2 separate regions of the Homo sapiens genome follow, and region 2 is linked to region 1. Evidence: fine-mapped expression QTL. A gene starts in region 1. The other region holds a variant in brackets. All regions are shown on one strand. Distances are from middle to middle. Region 1 holds the start of CRKL (CRK like proto-oncogene, adaptor protein). Region 2 holds the start of LOC107985584 (a long non-coding RNA gene).

The links. PIP is the estimated chance that this variant, and not a neighbour inherited with it, causes the effect.
Region 2: its variant is fine-mapped to the expression of CRKL in whole blood (TOPMed, PIP above 0.99).

The regions. Positions count from the first base shown.
Region 1 is chr22:20,910,564-20,921,729 of GRCh38, forward strand. CRKL (CRK like proto-oncogene, adaptor protein) reads left to right here and starts at 6,844. Exons shown (of 3, transcript NM_005207.4): 1 at 6,844-7,682. The coding sequence starts at 7,372. RefSeq lists a silencer at 6,761-7,210 and an enhancer at 7,501-7,560.
Region 2 is chr22:20,695,056-20,706,221 of GRCh38, forward strand. LOC107985584 (a long non-coding RNA gene) reads left to right here and starts at 481. Exons shown (of 2, transcript XR_007068010.1): 1 at 481-693; 2 at 1,750-1,874. It also overlaps the pseudogene BCRP5 and the pseudogene TMEM191A. RefSeq lists enhancers at 1,677-2,293, 7,964-8,073, 8,172-8,744 and silencers at 7,664-7,733, 8,464-8,613. The variant T/C (reference allele first, on the strand shown) is at 4,987.

The DNA of each region.
Region 1 (11,166 bases):
GACCAGCCTGGCCAACAGGGTGAAACGCTGTCTCTACTACAAATGCAAAAATTAGCCAGACGTGTTGGCACACACCTGTCATTCCAGCTGCTCGGGAAGCTGAGGCATGAGAGTCGCTTGAGCCTGGGAGGCAGAGGTTGCACTGAGCCAAGATCATGCCACTGCACTCCAGCCTGGGTGACAGAGTGAGACTCTGTCTCAAAAATAAATAAATAGGCCGGGTGTGGTGGCTCACACCTGTAATCCCAGCACTTTGGGAGGCCGAGGCAGGCGGATCACCTGAGGTCAGGAGTTCAAGACCAGCCTGCCCAACATGGTGAAACCCAGTGTCTACAAAAATACAAAAATTAGCCATGCATGTTGGCGCGCGCCTGTAATCCCAGCTACTCAGGAGGCTGAGGCAGGAAAATCACTTGAACCCAGGAGGCAGAGGTTGCAGTGAGCCGAGATCATGCCATTGCACTCTAGCCTGGGCGACAGAGCGAGACTCCATCTCAAAAAAACAAACAAACAATAACAAAATAAATAAATAAAAGACTTGAACTCAGACCAGACGTGATGACCAGCTGAATTTAAGCATATTAGTCAGCAGAGGAAAAGAAACTAACCAGGATTCCCTCAGTAATGGCAAGTGAACAGGTAAGAGCCCAGCACCAAATGCCTGCCTTGCAGAGTTTTTACATATATATGTGTGTGTGTGTGTGTGCATTATATATATACGTATTCTTTTTAAGTTGAGAAAACAATAATTCAGTATAACCCAAAGTGGAATCTGCTAAAATGGGTAACAAGTGATGGTGGTAATCATGTATGAAGCAGAAAAAGGCTTAGTTGAGCAAATTTATAAAGCCCTGGAAAATATAAGGTGTTTAGAGCCTATGGTTATTTATGACATTATTCATCTGAAACTAATCCATGATAAAAATATATATATATTTTTGAGACAGAGTCTCTCTCAGTCACCCAGGCTGGCGTGCAGTGGCGCAATCTCAGTTCACTGCAACCTCTGCCTCCCAGGTTCAAGTGATTCTCCTGCCTCAGCCCCCTGAGTAGCTGGGACTACAGGCGCACGCCACCATGCCTCGCTAATTTTTCTATTTTTAGTAGAGATGGGGTTTCACCACGCTGGTCTCAAACTCCTGACCTCAGGTGAGCTGCCTGCCTTGGCCTCCCAAAGTGCTGGGATTACAGGTGTGAGCCACCACACCCAGCCCTTTTTTTTTTTTTTTTTGAGACACAGTCTCACTGTGTCACCCAGGCTAGAATACAGTGGCATGATCTGGGGCTCACTGCAGCTTCAACCTCCTAGGCTCAAGCACTCCTCCTGACTCAGACTTCCAAAGTGTTGTGTTTACAGGCATGAGCCACCACACGTGGCAACTGTAGCTATTATTTTTTGATACGGAGTCTCACTCTGTCACCAAGGCTGGAGTGCATTGGTGCGATCTCGGCTCACTGCAACCTCCACCTCCTGGGCTCAAGCGATTCTCCTGCCTCAGCCTTCCCAGTAGCTGGGACTACAGGCATGTGCCACCATGCCTGGTCTTTAGTAGAGACGGGGTTTCACCATGTTGGCCAGGCTGGTCTTGAACTCCTGACCTCAGCTGATCTGCCTATCTCGGCCTCCCAAAGTGTTGGGATTACAGGCATGAGCCACCGCAGCTGGTCTGGCGATTGTAATTATTTTAGAAGACAAGAGTTTAAGTATAATACCATCTAGAAACCCTGGGAATATGCAAGCTAAGGAAGAATCAAAATCTATATGTTACAGCTTTTTTTTTTTTTTTTTTGAGACGGAGTCTGGCTCTATCGCCCAGGCTGGAGTGCAGTGGTGCAATCTCGGCTCACTGCAAGCTCCGCCTCCCGGGTTCACGCCATTCTCCTGCCTCAGCCTCCCGAGTAGCGGGGACTACAGGCGCCTGCCACCATGCCCGGCTAATTTTTTGTATTTTTAGTAGAGATGGGTTTTCACCATGTTAGCCAGGATAGTCTTGATCTCCTTACATCGTGATCCACCCACCTCGGCCTCCAAAAGTGCTGGGATTACAGGCATGAGCCACTGCGCCCGGCCTATTACAGCTTTTTTAATGGTTTCTTTCTGTTTCTCTACTCATTGCTGTTTTGCTATCTCAGCATTTAGTAACTTTTTTTGGAATGTTTTTGACAGGGTCTTGCTCTGTTGCCTAGGCTGAGGTGCAGTGGCACAATCAAGGCTTACTGCAGCCTCGACCTCCTGGGCTCAGATGATCCCCCAACCTCAGCCTCCTGAGTAGCTGGGACTTGAACACCTGGGCTCAAGTGATCTACCCACCTTGGCCTCCCAAAGTGCTGGGATTACAGGCATGAGCCAACATGCCCAGCCTGGAAAGTTTATTTTATGCTTGTCTCAACTGTGCTAAGGAAAAATAAAGGAAAGTATCTTTTACAAAAATTTTATTATGACAAATTCCAAACATACATAAAAGTATTATAGAATATAATTAACCCTACCCTCGCATCATGTCACCTGGTTTCAATAATTATCAATCTCACATGGCCATTCTTGTTTCACTTTTATCTAACCCACACCTTATTCCCCTCTGGAGTATTTAGAAGCAAAATGAGAGATATTTGGTTCTTTTTTTTTTTTTTTTTTTGAGATGGTGTCTCACTCTGTCTCCCAGGCTGGAGGGTAGTGGCACAATCTTGGCTCACTGCAACCTCCGCCTCCCAGGTTCAAGCTATTCTCCTGTCTCAGCCTCCTAAGTAGCTGGGACTACAGGTGAGCGCCACCATGCTCAGCTAATTTTGGTATTTTTAGTAGAGACAGGGTTTCACTATGTTGGCCAGACTGGTCTTGAACTCCTCACCTCAAGTGATCTGCCCACCTCAGCCTTGCAAAGTGCTGGGATTACAGGTGTGAACCACTGTGCCCGGACTTTACTTTTTTCTAAAAAGAGAGTTTATTTAAGGAAAATAGAGAGCAGAGAGTTTATTTTTACAATGTTTTTACATTGACTGGGTGCCGTGGCTCACTCCTGTAATCCCAGCACTTTGGGAGGCCAAGGTGGGCGGGTTGCGAGGTCAGGAGTTCAAGACCAGCCTGGCCAATATGTTGAAACCTGGTCTCTACTAAAAAATACAAAAATTAGCCAGGTGTTGTGGCATGCGCCTGTAGTCCCAGCTACTCAGGAGGCTGAGGCAGGAAGAATCACTTGAACCAGGGAGGCGGAGGTTGCAGTGAGCCGAGATCACGCCACTGCACTCTAGCCTGAGCAACAGAGTGAGACTCTGTCTCGAAAAAAAGAATGTTTTTACTTTTTTTAAAATAGAGATGGGGTTTTGCAATGTTGTCCAGGCTGGTCTCTAACTCCTGGCCTCAAAGGATCCACCTGCTTCACCTTCCCAAAATGCTGGGATTACAGGTGTGAGCCACTGCACCTGGCCAAGAGCAGATAGTTTATATAGACAGATAGTACACCCTGAAAAGATGAGGCAAAGAGGGCTGAGGCAAAGAGGGCTGCTGAAAAGGGAGTGAGCCAGCAGCTAATGTTCAATTATCATTTTTCTCTGGCTTCCTCCCATCTTTATCCATCTACATTCAAAAACCATACATTAAGTATGTATCGGCTGGGCGTGGTGGCTCACACCTGTAATCCGAGCACTTTGGGAGGCCAAGGCGGGCAGATTATGAGGTCAGGAGTTCGAGACCAGCCTGGCTAACATGGTGAAACCCTATCTCTACTAAAAATACAAAAATTAGTCAGGCATGGTGGCGCGTGCCTGTAATCCCAACTACTCAGGAGGCTGAAGCAGGAGAATCACTTGAATCCAGAAGGCAGAGGTTGCAGTGAGCCGAGATTGCACCACTACACTCCAGCCTGGGCAGCAGAATGAGACCCCATCTCAAAAAAAAAAAAAAGTATGTATTATGTGCTAGGTACTGGGAATAGAAAAAATAATATATAGCAGGCTGCCCTCAAGATGCTCAGATTGGGATGAGAAAAATATTTATGAACAATTACAATAGAATGTGATAAAAATTAATTTAGGCTGTGCCCACAGTGTATACATAGTAATCAGAGAGTATGGTCAGTTTTGGTTCTGCTTTTAGAATATGTGTTTGGAGTCACCAGAGATGTGACCCCTAAATGCTTCATGCTGATTATTAGCCTACTAAAGGAAAAACTATGGAGAGGTGAAGGACGCTCTGCATTTAGAGGGCAGAGAGCGGGTTGCTGTGGCTCACATCTGTAATCCTAGCTACTTTGGAGGCTGAGGCAGGAGGACTACTTGAGCCTAGGAATTTGAGACGAGAGTCAGCAACAGAGAGACATGTCTTTAAAAACAAAACAAAACCCAAAAAGCCTAATTCAGTCAAAGCATGGGTAGAAGCCAGATTAAGAAGGTTGAGCAGCTGGGTGGGTGGCTCACGTCTGTAATCCCAACACTTTGGGAGGCCAAGCTGGGAGGATTACCTGAGCCCAGCAGTTCCAGATCAGCTTGGGCAATACAGTGAGACCTCATCTCTACAAAAAATTTAAAAATTAAAAAATCACCACTAGGATTACAGGCGGTGGCTCACGCCTGTAATCCCAGCACTTTGGGAGGCTGAGGCAGGAGGATCATGAGGTCAGGAGTTCAAGACCAGCCTGGCGAACATGGTGAAACCCTGTCTCTACTAAAAATACAAAAATTAGCTGGGCATGGTGGTGCATGCCTGTAATCAATCCCACCTACTTGGCAGGCTGAGGCAGGAGAATTGCTTGAACCTGGACCTGGGAGGCAGAGGTTGCAGTGAGCTGAGATCACGCCACTGCACTCCTCCAGCCTGGGCTACAGAGCTAGAGTCCGTATCAGAATAAAAAAAAAAAAAAAGGGCTGGGCAAGGAGCAGGTGATTATGAAGTGGTAAATCTGACAGTGAAAAGTAGTTAGAAAACAAAGTGGAGATTTTTCTCTCCACCCTCACCCACCCACTGAGGGTGTATGCTCAGGGTTTTAGGGTATAGAGGTAGAGGCCCAGGGAATGACTGAATAATAATAATGGAAGACTCATATGATGCTTACTATGTGCCAGGTACTATTCTAAGCACTTTGCATATATTAACTTGTTTCATACATAGCTGGGCGGGGTGGCTCACATCTTGGCTGAGGGGGAGGATTGTTTGAGCTCAAAAGTCTGAGACGAGCCTGGGCAACATGGTGAGATTTCGTCTCTATTAAAAATCAAAGGCCGGGCGCGGTGGCTCACGCCTGTAATCCCAGCACTTTGGGAGGCCGAGGCGGGCGGATCACGAGGTCAGGAGATCGAGACCATCCCGGCTAAAACGGTGAAACCCCGTCTCTACTAAAAATACAAAAAATTAGCCGGGCGTAGTGGCGGGCGCCTGTAGTCCCAGCTACTTGGGAGGCTGAGGCAGGAGAATGGCGTGAACCCGGGAGGCGGAGCTTGCAGTGAGCCGAGATCCCGCCACTGCACTCCAGCCTGGGCGACAGAGCGAGACTCCGTCTCAAAAAAAAAAAAAAAAAAAAAAAAATCAAAAAAATTAGCTGGGCATGGCAGCGCGAGCCTGTAGTCCCAACTACTCGGAAGGCTGAGGTGGGAGGATCCCTTGAGATGGGGAAATCAAGGCTGCAGTGAGCCATGATAGTTCCACTGCACTCCAGCCTGGGTGACAGAAGGAGAACCTGTCTCAAAAACAAACAAAATAAAACAAACAGGCTGGGCACGGTGGCTCACGCCTGTAATCCTAGCACTTTGGGAAGCTGAGGCAGGCAGATCACCTGAGGTCAGGAGTTTGAGACCAGCCTGGCCAACATGGTGAAACCCCGTTTCTACTAAAAATACAAAAATTAGCAGGGCATGGCGGCGGACAGCTGTAATCCCAGCTACTCGGGAGGCTGAGGCAGGAGAATCGCTTGAACCCGGGAGGCGGAGGTTGCAGTGAGCCGAGATCGCGCCCCTGCACTCCAACCTGGTGACAGAGCGAGACTCCGTCGAAAGAAGGAAAGGAAAGGGAAAGGGAAAGGAAAGGGAAAGGGAAAGGAAAGGAAGAGAGAGAGAGAGAGAAAGAAAAGAAAAGAAAAAAGAAAAGAAAGAAAGAAAGAAAGAAAGAAAGAAAGAAAGAAAGAAAGAAAGAAAACAAACAAAAACAAATAGGGATTAATAAATAGGCAGAAGCAGGCATAATCCGGGGCAGGGGAAGCCTCGGGGCCACGCCCGAGAGGCATTTGTATTTTACTTTCAGCAGTTCAGAGCCCATGATAGCCAGGTTACCCACTTGTGGACTTCCTTGACCACTTAATTGAGTCAATCTAACCCTCACCTTCTCTCTCCTCTCACTCCATTTAGCGGGTCACGTAGCCACTAGGGCTTCCTTAGCCTATCAGGCCACCTGGGGACTGAGTCATTCAGTCAGTCACCTATCTGGTGGTCACATCTGCCCCTGGGCTCATCCTTTTACTGGGCCACCTCGGCCCATCGGGACCTGTCAGTCCTTGACCTCCCTCAGGCCCCTAGGCTGGCCAGGTCGCCTCAGTGCCACGCCTCCCTGGCCCGCGATTCAGCCTGCACGTTACGCTTTGTTCCCAGAAGCAGGTTTTCGAAACGCGGTTCCCTCTCGGCTCCAGCTGTTTTCCTGCCAGCGCTGGGAGACCCGGCAGCCGCAGCGCCCCCAGCGGCGCGCAGCGGCCCAGGAAGAGAGTGCCTACCGCCGGCGCCTCTTCAGCCTCCTCCTGGAACGCGGGAGCGGGCGCGACCAGCGCCCACCCTGATCGTCGCGACGGTGCTCCTGATTGGCTGCGCTGTGTGACGTAACGGGAGGGCCCCGGCGGCCGCCGGGAGCCGGGGCCCAGCGCGTGCGCAGACGGAGCGCGCTGAGCGGAGGGGGAGGTGGCTGCCGCTTCTCCCGCGTCCGCCATTTTGTTGCTGTGGCTATTGGGAACAAGCTGGGCAAAAGCACCCCGGAGGCGCGACGCTCCTTCGAGTTCGGTGCCTCGTGTGACGGCGGGGGTCGGTGAAGACCCGTCGAGCTGCGGCGCCGGCGCGTTCCAGGCCGGGAGTCACTGGAGGCACCCCTGGGACGCCGAGCAGCCCGAGAACCCCGGGGTGGCCTCCGCTGCGGCTCGGGTTTGCCTGCCCCGACCCCCCGGCTCTGCCGTGCATTCCCGGGCGGCTCTCTCCGTGTGGCGGCCCCGGAGCAGGCGGGCGGCGTCGGAGGATGCTGCGGGCCCGGAGCCGAGAGGAAAGTGCTGGCCCAGCCCTCTGAGCGCTCCTCGAGGTGTGCGAGAGGCCCTTCCTCGGCCCCAAAGCCGTCTGCCGGGCTAAGGCGTGCAGAGCAGGCGAGGACAGCCGCCGCCCCTACCGCCGCAGAGTCCCCGGTCCAACACCATGTCCTCCGCCAGGTTCGACTCCTCGGACCGCTCCGCCTGGTATATGGGGCCGGTGTCTCGCCAGGAGGCGCAGACCCGGCTCCAGGGCCAGCGCCACGGTATGTTCCTCGTCCGCGATTCTTCCACCTGCCCTGGGGACTATGTGCTGTCGGTGTCCGAGAACTCGCGGGTCTCCCACTACATCATCAACTCGCTGCCCAACCGCCGTTTTAAGATCGGGGACCAGGAATTTGACCATTTGCCGGCCCTGCTGGAGTTTTACAAGATCCACTACCTGGACACCACCACCCTCATCGAGCCTGCGCCCAGGTACGCGAGAGCCCTCCCCGACCGCGGAGGAAGGTCGAGAACCGGGTCTGTCGAAGAGTGCTTGTATAGGGGGGTGGGGCGCGCTTGAACCCATATTCCCCGCATTCTGAACCAAATTATTTTCCAGAAGGCCTTCCTAACAGAAAGCTAGTGTCAGGATCTGGGTCACTGGATAAGAGGATGCGTTTTTTTTTTTTCCCTCTCACGAGGCTGTTTCTCAATGTGAAGAGGATGCGTTTTGAATGTTTAACGGTGGTTGCATAGTTAAAATGCACGCTTTTTGCCTTTCGTGACTTTCTCTGGGTGTAATACTGATGCAGGGATTTGTTGGTTTTTCTAAAAACCTCTTTTTTTTTTTTTTTTTTGAGACGGAGTCTCGCTGTGTCGCCAGGCTGGAGTGCAGTGGTGCGATCTCGGCTCACTGCAACCTCCGCCTCCCGGGTTCAAGCGATTCTCCTGCCTTAGCCTCCCGAGTAGCTGGGACTACTGGCTCACGCCACCACACCCAGCTAATTTTTGTATTTTTAGTAGAGACGGTGTTTCACCATGTTGGCCTGGATGGTCTCGATCTCTTGCCCTCGTGATCCGCCTGCCTCGGTCTCCCAAAATGCTGGGATTACAGGCGTGAGCCACCACACCCGGCCAAAAACCGTTTTTAAGCCATAGACTTCTTTGAGAATCTGAAGATAGCCGAGCACTCACCACCCCACCCCCACCCCCACCCCCACCCCTCCCCGCCAAAGGCACGTACACACAAGTTTGCACACCATCCCGGGTGCTTGTACTCCCTCCAGATCTCTGAACTCCAGGTTAAGAACTCCAGGACTGCAGCCTTTGGAACAGTCAAAAAAATGAAAATGCTTTAGCGTTTAGAAACAAAAAAACCTTTAACCAAAATATCAGAACTGTATATTGATACTGTGGTGCCAAGTTTGAAGCAGGCCAGACACCACCACTTTTATAGTACGTTAATTACAAAGATAAGAGAAGGTGCATTGGCTTCAGCGAGGATATTTTTTGGAAAATTTATTGCATATTTTCTCCCCGAGGACCATTAGTAGGCCAGAGATCAGTCTGGTTAATTTCCAAGGTGGAATTAGGCTAGAATGTTATTAAGGAAAATTTTTGAATGACACTTAGTTGTATCCTAGTTCAATTTCAGACATGCTTTTTGTGTTAAGTCTAATGATTTTGTATTTCTTATTTTAAAATTAACGCAAAGTGACCAAGCATTCTCTTTTCCAAGTGAAATACGTTATTTTAATTGATTAGTTGCTTTAATTTGCCTTAAGCGTTTTAGCAGAGATTTGCTTTTATTGTTGTGTTTGCCCTGTAACACTGATTTTATCAGAGGTTTCTTTTATTTAAATTATCCCAAATTTGAGTTGAAAAGTTGCCTAGAATTTTTAAAGTAACAAACTGGCCAGTTCGTTTCTTAAACATCTATTTTAAAAGGACTGGGTGTTGATACAGTTTTTCCAGGGTTAGATGTTTATGACTTTATGGATTTGTCGACCGGGTATTACTCTAAACTTTAAACATTAAAAGCTATTATAATTGAGGACACCAACTGTTTGCATAGTGGGATAGAGATAGAAAAAAAAAAGCCATGACAGTATAATGACTACAAGATTAACTACTGAACTAAATGGACTTTAAAAGTGGGGAGAAAGTGATTATAAATCAAATACTGTATAACAAAGACCAGGACACCAAGAATCTGATTGGTGAAACCTGCGGTTCCTGGCAGATGCTGGTAGTTGCAGTCAACTTTGAGCACAATATAATTCCAATTTAAGGAGTTGAGAATCTTAGAACCCACTGTAGTGAGATTTGTAATATGACTGAATAAATTCTTCCTCTCGTTTGTGAGCGTGAATTATATAATTAATACCAGGCATTCATTAAGCCATGCATATGCTTATGTTGAGGTCATGAGTACTAATAATACAGCTGTTTCAAAAAGCAAGTTAATGGGCGGGTGTGGTAGCTCACGCCAGTAATCCCAGCACTTTGGGAAGCCAAGCCGGGCGAATCACGAGGTCAGGAGTTCAAGACCATCTTGGCCAACATGGTGAAACCCCGTCTCTGCTAAAAATACAAAAAATTAGCTGGGCGTAGTGGTGGGTGCCTGTAATCCCAGCTACTCGGGAGGCTGAGGCAGGAGAATCGCTCGAACCCGGGAGGCGGAGGTTGCAGTGAGCCGAGATCGCGCCACTGCACAGCCCGGGTGACAGAGTGAGACTCTGTCTCAAAAAAAAAAAAGGAAAAAGTTAATGACTTGAGTCTCCTTCTAGAGGAAGGAAAAGAAGTATGCCGCTTCTCTCTATCCACAGAATCGCCTCCAGATTTTCCGTACATGCATGCATCTTCTTAGAGAACAAGCATGTAATTCTGTCTTTGCCCTCTTTCGTCCTTCCTTTACTGCAGCTGTACTAGGCTGCTCACTTATTCCCTGGTAGCCATCCTTCCTTACTCATACCTTTGTACCTTTGCACCTTTGCTCCAGCTGTTGGCTCTTCACTGACTGCCTTAACTACACCTCACTCTCCATCTGTTGAAATCCTACCTGTTGTTCCAGTCCCCTCACAGATTATAGGGCCTTTCTCTGACCCTACCCCTCACGTTCAGCTTTGTTTCTCCTTCTCTGTGCCCTCTGCCTCAGGCCTGTTGCTTTAATTTAGTTTTTCATTTTCCTAGGTATCTCTGAAGGAGATCACCATGCTGGTTGAATTAGATCCTGACTGAGTTTACTTTGTTATACTGAATCTTCGAATTGCCACTCCCAAGCCTGGTTTTCATGGCTTAGGTTTAACATGTTATTAGCCTTTTATAGAAAGCTAGTGACTACTAGAGCCTGGGCCAAACGGAAAACTCAGTGTAATGCTTCTTCGCATCCCAAACAGGGTACATTTAGTGGCTTAACTTTGCAGGCATCAAAACTGAGCTTTTAAAGCCAGAGTTTCATGCCTCTTGGCTAATATTTTGGTTTATCTTGCATAGCTAAAATTTGTAACAATAATGTCCTACTCGAAATTTAAGGACTGGTGGCTTGCATTGTTATAGTCTTATCCTTTTCATTAGAATGCTTCATAATTTTTAATTTTATATTTTTATTCAAATGTTTATAAGAGAATTATAACCCAGTGTAACCCAGTGTAGGTACTGGGAAAGATGTGTGACAGACATACTTTCTTCCTGTGGAACTCCTACTGTAGTGGAGAAGACAGACTGAAAAGTAGAAAAATAAAGTACTAGTAAGATCAATATACAGGAGGGACCTACCTGGGGTGGCGTGGTCAGAGAAAGCATGAAGCTAAGACCTGAGGGTAAAGAAGAACCCAGCCTAGGCAAGGCTTGGCCTGAGAGGAGGAGAAGAGCCTTCCAAGTTTAGGGAAAAGCTTATGTAGATGTCCTGAGGTGAGAAAGTCCATTGTGTTGGGAGTGTGTTTCTTTTCTTTCTTTCTTTTTTCTTTTTTTTTTT
Region 2 (11,166 bases), 220 kb before region 1:
AGCAAAGGAAGACCAGCCGGGTCACCCTGGTGGCCATCTGTCCCTGTCCCACCTGCAGAGTCAGAACAGCCTCTCCCCAGTGGGGATCATCTCTCTCTGCCAAAGCAACAGCGGTCCCTGCCCCAACCAGACTACCCCACTCAGTGGAGTTACGGATGCTGCTCCAGCATCCTAACACTGCCCAGCTGGTGCCTGCCTGTGCTCACCCGCACCCCCCAGGCCGGCCTTCCCTGCAGCCTGGGCTTGGCCACCTTGGCCTGATTGAGCACTGAGGCCTCCTGGGCACCCAGCCCCATCACTGCACCTGCTGCTTCCAGCCCCACCCCACAAGCTCAGGGGTTCTTCCCAGCGGCGCTGATCATGAAGTCAACATGCACGCAAGTCGTCTCAGGAAACTTTTTAATGAAAGTGTTGGCCACGGTGGTGTGTAGGTGGCTGAGCTCAGATTGCAGCTGCTGAGACACCAGCCACTTACCAAGAGAAAGCCAGGCTGCTTCAAACCCAGGGCCCGCGGCAAAAAAGCATCACTTCCGGCCGGGGAGTCTGGAAGCCACGCCTTGTGGGAGGTCACACTGGCATCTAGGCCTTCGCCTGCACTGCAGAAGGAGAGCCGGGTCCCCCTCCTGGAGAACGCTGCGTTCCCCAGCCCCACACCGGCTTTGCCACCACACAGGCTGTTGAGGCAGGAGGCGGGTAAGACGTAGCTGTAGACCCAAAGCAACCACCAGCCCTGGGACCCTGCGGGAGAGAAGCACTTTTAGAACATGGAAAAGTGTGGTCATCCCATCATTAGACAGCACACATCCTACATAAATAAAAAGTCGTATGGGGAAGGAGGTTGGGGAGGGAATAAAAAACTGGCACAGACATTGATAGACTGGTTTCCAGTTTCAAGGTAACAGATGCACATCATGAGACCAGAGGAGGCAGAGACAAGGGCTGGATTTGGCTTTTCTAAGCAACATGTGTTCCTGCGCAGGGCTGAATGGTCACTGAGACAGAGATGGAAGCCAGGACAGGGGAGCCCACTGGGCCCAGATAGGTACAGAGAGCAGAGGCTCCTGTTCTGTCCTCACCACCCATGAGGGTGACACTGCTTGTAAATGGTGGCTGTGCTCTCCCAGCAAGAAAAAAGCACAACTAAATCCACACTGCACAAAGACGCAGACAGAAAGCCTTCAAGTGGCTCTGTTTTCTGCTCCCTGCCTCATCAGGTCCACAAGCAGAGAGGAGTGTCAGGTACATATCCCTGCTGTCAGGCTCCCCAGTAAGCTGCGGGCTCAGCAGGAGCTGCCCACTGACACACAGGGGACACCCACTCCTGCCACCTTGGGAGCGGTTGCCAGACAGAGCCGTACTGGGTGCTGGTGTCATCCAGGGACCCCACACACTTCCTTAAATGTGATCCTGCTTCCCTCTGCGCAGCTGCATCCTCTCCTCCTGCAGGACCGTCTGGAAACTTGGCTCTCAGTTTGCTCTCCCTTCTCTCCTCTGCCTGCCCCAAGCCCCTCTTTCTAAAAAAGTGATGCCACGTTCATGGGATTATTTCTTGAAAATACTTGGCGGCCTCCATGCTTCTGTTTTCTTTGAGTCAGGTAGTCAGGAGGGTTTACAAACAATGCCTGGGCTCCCCCGCAGGTGCCGGCAGATGGGGTAGCGAATGGTCCTGTGCCTCCACCTGCTCCGGGAGGGAGTCTCCCGTCTCTAGGCCTGGCCCCTTCCTAACCCTCCACGTATCCTGTTCTCCAGAGACTTCAGAACCCACTCCTGAGAACAGCGGAGCCAGGCGCTTAGAGGAAGACCAAATGCTGCCAGGACACGGATTGTCCAGGGATTACATTCCAGCATCTTATTAGGTATCTGGATCTGTTGGGGAAAAAATTAGAAACTATGTATAAAACTTACAAATATTCAAGTATCAAAAGGTTATTTAGGATGAAAGTTTTAAAACAAGTCATCAGCAAGCTGCTACCACCAAGTGGAGACTTATACAAAAGTTGAGCGAGTCCACTGAGCTGAGAGGACAGAAATGAAGTCACCTGTGCTGGGGCAGGGGCAGGGACACTGGGGGCAGGGAGTGTGTGGGCAGAGAAGCCAGAGAAGTCCAGGCCTGTGGAAGCCAAACAGGAGAGCGTGGGCCGGAAGGGCGGTCAGGATCGGGGGACGAGGTCGCTCTCCCTGGAGAACGAACCCTAAGGTGCGTAGCCTGGGATTCCCTCCCTGGAGGTCCTGTCCCCCGACATTTCACAGGCCTTCTGAGCTGCTTTCCAAGGAGGACTAACACGGCAACAAAAGAACCATTTCTGCACAAAAATCCTGGAAAGAAAAAGAAGCAAGCCGAGAATGGAGTCAAAACGCTACCCAGTGCTGACTAAGCCTCTCAAACCCTGTTCTAAGTGGACTGTGGTTTCTAAGTCAGGGAAATGGAAGAGGCCCCACCCACACAGGGACAGGGCCACGGCCCCCACAGGATGAAGCAGCAGCGTTTATTCAAGATACAACAGTGAGGGAATCCGGTCACGTTCCCTTCTCCCCAGAGAGGGCGCATCTTGACAAGTGATCGAGTAGAAATCTTTTAAACTCTAAGTTAAGTTCATAAAAACCACTGGTTTCACTCTGTCTCCCAGGGCCAGGCCTGGCCTCTGAGATGCACTGGCTTGGGGCGCCCTCAGGTGGCTGCATGGAAAACCCACAGTCTGAGGCCAGCCTGGGGCTTTCAGACCTGGGCGGGATCTGCCCAGGCCACCTGTCCTTCTGCTTTGGGCCGCTGTCTCTTGGCAGATGGCCTGACACCTGGGGGTGGCCCAAGGATGCCTCAGAAAATCTTGATTCCCACTCTACAGATAGCCTGATTAGCCAGAGGTTTCCAGGCCATCTGTCCGCCTCCAGGAGATGGACTGGGACCTTTAGACATCGGTGGAGAACAGGATGCTCTGTCCCTTGCTGTCCGGGGCAGGGACGGCCTCCAGCCGCAAGAAGTACAGCAGCACCTCGACCTGCCCTCGCGGAGTGGGGAAGAGGAGAGTGGCTCAGAGGGGGGCTCACAGCTGCTGGTGGGGAGGTCTTTGGGGCCCAAGTCCCCAAGTCCACCTCAGGTGCTAGAAACCCCTGCTGGTGTCATGAACCCCTTACAGTGAGACGGGGGTGGGGTGGGGTCCTGACAAGGCATGACTTGTTGGGTGGGGGGTGGTTATTTATTTTAGAGATGCACAGGGCCTTGCTCTGTCCCCCAGGCTGGAGTACAGTGGCTCCATCATGGATCACTGCAGCCTCTAACTCCTGGGCTCAAGCAATCCTCCTGTGTCAGCCTCCCAGATACCTAGGATTACAGATGTGTGCCACAATGCCTGCCTAATTTTTCTTTGTATTTTTTCTAGAGATGGGGTTTGCTACATTTCCCAGACTGGTCTCAAACACCTGGGTTCAGTTGTCCTGCCTCGGCCTCCCAAAGTGCTGGGATTACAGGCATGAGCCACCACACCTGAACACTTGGGGTGGTTTTAAGCCCCCAGCAAGGTGCACCAGCAGGAGCAGGAGGTGGCCTAGGCTCCCCCTATCACTCCCATCCATGCAAACCTAGGCAAGTCCCTGTCTCTGAATCTCAGCCACCACCACATACAATGCAAGTTGGAAGATGGGCAGGACTGGGGGTGGGGCAGGCAGAGGCCACCTCTGTCAGGCTGGGGTTGCATGGGCTGGAGCCTGTCTTCCCACACCTGGGACATGACCTCCAAGGACCAGCTGTCAGTCATGGTGATGGGCTGGCCGGGGTTGGCAGGGAGCTTGCTCTCCTTCTCGGAGGGCCGGAGCAGCATGGGGCCAAAGACAGTGGCAAGGTTGTGCAGGGACATCTTATTGACTGCCTCCTTCTCTGCCACCCTGTAGAGGACCAAAGCAGAAGGTGCTGTTTCAACGCCACCACCAGGAGAGAGGCAGAGGGGCTGTGCCGTGCTAGAGTCCTCAGGGAGAGAGTGACCTCGACCCTGGCTATGAGCCAATGCGCCCGGCCTCTCACTCTTCTTTATTCAGCATAATTTATTCTGACGTATCTTCAGTGTAGGTATTCTCTTTTTATTCTCCTATTCCTGTTAAACCCATTGGGCTGAATGCTGTTTATTTCTAGAATGTCTACACCTGTTTTTCTGCAAGGTCATTTTTTTTTCTCGTTTGCTGTTCGTCACATATACTTTCAAGCTCATCGGTTCCCTCCGTGAGTACAGGTAAGTGGAGGAGCCTCATGGTCTGCCTCAGGTCTTTGAGATGTTGAGTCTCTGGATCTGGTCCTGCTGCTGGCCTTTTCTGTCCTTGCTCATGGGGCATTGTTTCCGTGAATGTGTGGTTACTTTTGACTGCATTACTCATTGTCCTGGAAAAATGACTTTGTGGGAATTTTTCAGACCTAGGGTAAAGATGCTTCCTCCAAACTAGGTTTACGCTTCCTTCTGCCAGGTACCTCAGGGCGCTGTCAGCCTAAAGCCAATTTAAACTAAATCCATCAACTGTGAGGTTTTGGAATCTTCTCACTGGTGTGAATTTGGGCCATAAGTCCCAAATTCTGTGGGGTGCTCTGTGGGGTGGGGACCAGCCTTAGAGTTCTCATCGGAAGCCCGGGGTGGCTGGATGGGGGCAGATGTTTTCAGGGCAAGAGCGGCTTGGCTCGCCTCTCTGGTTTCTGGTTTCCCCAGATGGTGCCTGGCGGCTCCTCACTGTCTTGTCAGCCCCTGGATGCCTTTAAGAAAACATCCTTTTATTTTGTCAGCATTTTTGGTACTTCTCAGTGTGAGGGCTGGTCCAAGTATTTGGCTTATCATAGTTTTACAAAAAGTTGGTTTCTATGAAATCTTAAGTCACCTCTTTTTTAAAAATGTACCTTTTAGTCCGGGCACGGTGGCTCACTCCTGTAATCCCAGCACTTTGGGAAGCCGGGGCAGGCAGATCACTTGAGGCCAGGAATTTGAGACCAGCCTGGACAACATGGTGAAACCC[T/C]GTCTCTACTAAAACTACAAAAATCAGTCGGGTGTAGGGCCAGGCGCAGGGGCTCACGCCTGTAATCCCAGCACTTTGGGAGGCCAAAGCAGGTGGATCACCTCAGGTTGGGAGTTCAAGACCAGCCTGACCAACATGGAGAAACCCCGTCTCTACTAAAAGTACAAAATTAGCTGGGCGTGGTGGCGCATGCTTGTAATCCCAGCTGCTCATGAGGCTGAGACAGGAGAATCACTTGAACCCGGGAGGTGGAGGTTGTGGTGAGCCAAGATCATGCGATTCCCCCTGCCTCAGCCTCCCAAGTAGGTGGGACTACAGGCAAGCACCACCATACCCGGCTAACTTTTTTTTGGTATTTTTAGTAGAGACAGGATTTTACCATCTTGGCCAAGCTGGTCTTGAACTCCTCACCTCGTGATCCACCCACCTCGGCCTCCCAAAGTGCTGGATTACAGGCGTGAGCTACCGCGCCCAGACTAAAAGCGCGCCCGGCCGTCTACTACTTCTTATAGGGTGAGAGGCGGGAGGATCGCTTGAGCCCTGAAGTTTGCGGCTGCTGCAGTTGGCTTTGATCGTACCACTGCACTCCAGCCAGGGTGACAGCAGGACCCTGACTCTAAAAAAAGAAAAAGAAAAAAAAGCATATACTATTAATACTTCCTCCTTACTATAATATTTACCGTGGCCTTTATCAGACTAGAGAGTGCTTTTATCTCTCCCTTTTGTAAGAAAGAGCTTTTAGAATTATCAATAGATGGTCAGGTGAGGTGGCTCAGGCCTGTAATTCCAGCACTTTGGGAGGCCGAGGTGGGTGGATCACGAGGTCAGGAGTTCAAAACCAGCTTGGCCAAGATGGTGAAACCCTGTCTCTACTAAAAATACAAAAAAATTAGCTGGGTGTGGTGGCGAGTGCCTGTAATGCCAGCTACTCCGGAGGCTGGGGCAGAGAATTGCTTGAACCCAGTAGGCGGAGGTTGCAGTGAGCCAAGATTGTGCCACTGCACTCCAGCCTGGGCAACAGAGTGAGACTCTGTCTCAGAAAAAAAAAAAAAATTATTAATAGATGGTGACCCTCATCTTCACGTTTTCTGCATCTATTGAAGTGCGCCACTGAGATCGTGGAGTTCTTCCCTGTTTGTCCATATGATGAACAACACTGATTTTCTGATGTTGAACAATCCCTGGAATAAACTCTGTTTGGTTTCCATGGATTTCTGTTTCCCTTTAGATTTTGTTAGTAATTTATTTTGGATTTTTGCATCCAAGTTCATAATTGTAACTGGACAAATAAAGGCAGATTTTAAAAGGACAAGTTGGGAGGCTAAGGCGGAAGGATCACTTGAGCCTGGGAGATTGAAGCTGCAGCTAGCTTCGATTGTTCCACTGTACTCCAGCCTGGTGACAGCAGGACCTGCCTCTAAAATAATAATACTTAAAAGGACGAGTTTACCTACAGTCTCACCAAGCAATGAAAGAGCTTATCTTCTTCCTGTTTCCTTTACGGATCTTGCTCATGTATTTTATCTTAGTTACTTTAGCATAAATGCTAAATCAAATTCTTTTTCACTAGACATCATAATAGCTCTAGGCATACCACATAATACCCAAGCACATTTTAATCATTAAAATTGTTTCCTTTTTTTGTGGCTACTGTAACCACTTCAGCGAACCATTTAGTGTGTAGTGGGTTTAAATTTTTTCTCCTTCCTGGGATAAATTTCCCAGGAGAGGGATAATTGGGTCAAAAGTTACGAACATATTTATGGGTTCTTTTCCACAAGAGATCGATCAGTTTGCAAGTGCCATCTGCACTGTGGGGGAACCAATCTTCAACTTGCCTGCATTTGGTATTAGTATTTCATTAACCTTTCATTGATCTAATTACGGCTCTTTGACACAATTTTCATCAGTGATGGACTAAGTGTGATCCGGCCTGACCCGCCTCCGGCCGGCGTGAGAAGGGGCATGTGTCGGGCTACCCTCGGGCTTCCCCTGCCGCCCATTGTGATCCAGCCCGCTAGGCGCTCCCTGCCGCCCATTGTGACGCCTGCCAGCCGCAGGCTGGGTCCCCGAGGCGGGCGGCATTTAGGCTCGGTCTCCACAGCCATGGCCGCGACGCAGGAGCTGCTGCTGCAGTTGCAGAAGGATAACCGAGATGGTCGCCAGCGGAAGCAGGAGCTAGAGAAGCTGATGCGCGGGCTCGAGGCCGAGAGCGAGAGCCTGCCTCAACCAGCGCCTGCAGGACCTGAGCGAGCGGGAGCGGAGGTGCGCGGGGAACGCCCCTCTACCTGGCGGGCGCGCGAGGGTCGGTCCCGCAGGCAGCGCCGCGAGGTGCTTCGCAGAGTACCAGGCTGATCCGCCCGGGCCCGCATCTCTGCTCTAGGCCCTTGGGAACGGGTGATCCACCCAGCGGACCCAGGTGGGGGACTCGGCCAGGACTTCCCAGTCCTCAATCATGAGCCTGCGGCTGGTCCTTCCTGGCGACTGCGGGATCCTGAGCGACCCAGTCCGCCTTGTAGCGCCAACCTCAGTTTCCCTCTGCAGGCTGCTGCGGAGGCGAAGCCAGGAAGCGCTGCTTCTGCAAGGGGAGGTGCGCGAGGCGGCGCGGGAGCGCGCGCAGCGGGTGCGCAGAAGACTGGAGGAGGCGGAGCGCCACAAGGAGGACTTGGTGAGGAAGAGTCCTGGAATGGGGCTGGACCCAGGGTGGGGTGGGGCAGGGCGGGCGGAAGGGGGCAGGATCCGGGGGTGGGGTGAGGTAGGACCGGCGGTGAGGCCGGCACCGCCCCAGGACCCTGTCCGCAGGAGCAGCACAGCAGGCAGCTGCAGGGCAGTGGGAGGAGCTGTCGAGTCAGGTACGTGCAGGAGATGGGAGGGCCTGTCTCTTGGTTCCTCTCGGAAGTCCTGCCCTTGCCCTCGCTCTCATTGCCTCCCCGTCCCTGTCTCCCCTGACACTCGTTCCTCCAGAAGCCCGGTAAACCCCGTCCTTACGAGCCCCGCCCCTAGCTCTTCTACTACGGAGGGGAACTGCAGAGCCAGAAGAGCACGGAGCAGCAACTCGCAGCCCAATTGGTGACGCTGCAGGTGCTTGAGCGGGACCCTGAGGTCTTTAGTAGGGGCGGAGCAGCAGCGTGAGCGGGGCCGTGACCACCTGGGGGTGTGGCTTAAGGCAGGCCCTGAAGGCGTGGGCGGGGCGGGGATGTGGGCGGGGCATAATCGCCTGGGGGCGGGGCCCTGAGGGCTAGATACGGGCGGAGCGCGGAGGGGGCGGGGCCATGACCAGCTGGGGCGTTGCTTACGACTGGTCCTGAGGACGTGGGCGGGGTCATGATCGCCTGGGGGCGGGCACTGAGGGCCGGGGGCGGGGCCCGGAGGCGCAGCGGGTTGCCGGCCTGCGGACCTCCTGACATTCCCTGGGTCCTTCTCAAGAATGAACTGGAGCTGGCGGAGACCAAATGCGCCTTGCAGGAGGAGAAGCTGCAGCAGGTGAGGGCAGAAGCGGGTTCTGTTGGAGGAGGGTAGGCTTTCGAGTGTGGATGGGGAAGGGCCTGTCGCCCCGCCCCCGCCGAGTCTAACCCGGGTGTCCACACCCAGGACGCGCTGCAGACAGCGGAGGCCTGGGCCATATTCCAGGAGCAGACCGTAGTCCTGCAGGTGCGGCCCCACTCAGACGCCAAGGTGCCTCCCGCCTCTCCTCCCCCAGACCTGGGGCGGTAAGTCTCCCAACCCACCGCCAGGACGCCTCCCCGAGGCCTCAGTCCGCACTCTCACCCGCTCCAGGAGGTGCAGGTGAAGGTGATGGAGGCTGCGGAGGAGCTGGACGCCTGGCAGAGTGGCCGGGAACTGTAAGGGAGTTGGGCTTGCGGGCGCGGCGGGGCACTGTGGGGCCGGGCCGGGCTGGGCTCCCACCTGCATGCCTGTCCCCGCAGGTGTGACGGGCAGCTTCGCAGAGTGCAGTACAGCACCGAGTCGCTCATGGAGGAGATGGCCAGGGCGGACCGAGTGAGCGCCTGCGCGGGTCCGGGCGGGGTGGGCTGGAGCGGGACACCCCTCCCCATCCCCCCCGCGGTACCGCCTCCCCCTCCTCCTGGAAACCGGGCCGGCGCCGCGGGCGCGGAGGTAGCTGGATGCGGCCCTCTCTCCCCGCAGGAGACGCGGCTGTTCGGCGGTCCTCGCGCGCTGGCCATCAGGTGAGCAGGGCGGTGGGCGCGGCCGCGGTCCCCCACGTGCCCGCCCGAGCCGCCGCCCACCTGCCCGCCTTTCGCCCTGCAGGCGCTGCTGACGCTGCCGCTCCTCTTCCTGGGGCTGTCGCTGCTCTGGACGGTGCTGTTGGACCCCGGCGCCGTCTCCGCGTGGCTCTGGAGCCTCACCTCGGAGACGACGCTGCGCCGCCTGCGCTACACGCTGTCCCCGCTGCTGGAGCTGCGCGCTAACGGGCTGCTGCCAACCTAAGTGCAGCGCCCCGCGCCTGGCTCCAGGTGGACTCCAGGGCACCGGCTTTATTTCTGGTGCACTCCTCTCCTGAGAGTGTAGACCAAGGTCGCCTAATAAACTCCTCAAGGGATGAAGCTCGTGGGTTCGTCGTCTGTCTCCCATGTCATGTAGGAGCTTGACTGGCTTTTCAGCCTCCAAAGATTCCTTCCTTTCTTACAGCTCATGGATTTAGATCCACTCCCCAGTATTGTAAACAGCATTTTTAGTTTTTCAGGATACATAATTTGCCATATTGCCAGAAACTTGTACATAGCATTTGACACTTTTTTCTTTGCCAATTTGACAAGCTGCTTTTTTCAAGTATTGTGATTTGAAATTATTTCTACTATATTTGAATTTATTTCTACCATTTGTAACATGTTGATCCTGATTTTTCAATGCTCCCCTTTCCTTCTGTTTGATTATTTGGGAAGTCACACTCTGTATTCTGGTATTCTTACTACTTGAGCTCAGCTCATTGCTGTCATCTTCCCCTAAACCGCCTTAAAGCATCTTAGGTCTTTTCCCTCTGATCACATGTGCTACTTTTTTTTTTTTTCTTTTCTTTTGAGATGGAGTCTTGCTCTGCGCCCAGGCTGGAGTGCAGTGGCATGATCTCGGCTCACTGCAAGCTCTGCCTCCCGGGTTCCAGCGATTCTCCTGCCTCAGCCTCCCAAGTAGCTGGGACTTCAGGCGCCTGCCATCATGCCCGTTTAATTTTTTGTATTTTTAGTAGAGACAGAGTTTCACTGTGTTAGCCAGGATGGTCTCGATCTCCTGACCTCGTGATCCGCCCACCTTGGCCTCCCCAAAGTGCTGGGATTACAGGCATGAGCCACCGTGCCTGGCCAACATTTTCTCCAGATATCTTACCGAGTCCTAATTTCCACTGCGGACAGAGAATACACTCTGCGTGATTTTAATTCTATCTCATTTACTGAGACTTGTTTTGTGGCCCAGCACAAAGCTTGTAATGAACATTGAGAAGAAAGTGTATTGTTGCTGTTGACAGAGTGATTTTTTTTTTGAGACGGAGTCTCGCTCTGTCGCCAGGCTGGAGTATAGTGGTGTGCAATCTCGGCTCACTCCAACCTCCACCTCCTGGGTTCAAGTGATTGTCCTGCCTCAGCCTCCCGAGTAGCTGGGACTACAGATGCATGCCACCATGCCCAGCTAATTTTTGTATTTTTAGCAGAGACAGGGTTTCACTGTGTTGGCCAGGATGGTCTTGATCTCTTGACATTGTGATCCGCCTGGCTTGGCCTCCCAAAGTGCTGGGATTACAGGTATGAGCCACCGTGTCAGGCCGACAGAGTGTGTTCTAAATACCCAGCAGGTCAAGGTGAGTGACAGGCTTGTTCAGGGCTCCTGTGTTTACTTTCTTGTTGGTAGCGCCGTCAATTGCTTATTGTGAAATGCCCCTTCATAAACACCCATACACATTTTGATTATGGATGGCCCGTCTTTTTTCCATCTGTTATTTTCATCTTAGATCTGTCTTCATATGTAAAGTGCTTTGGTTATAATCAGCACATAACTGGGTCTCACTTCTTCAATTCATGTTTATAATCCCTGACTTTTAAATTGGGCTGGTAAGTCTATTATGTTTCTCCTTTTCTGCCTTCTTTTGGATTAGTATCTTTTAAAACTCCTTTTAACTTATACGCTGACTCATATTTTTTATTAAGACAGTCTCACTCTGTCATTCAG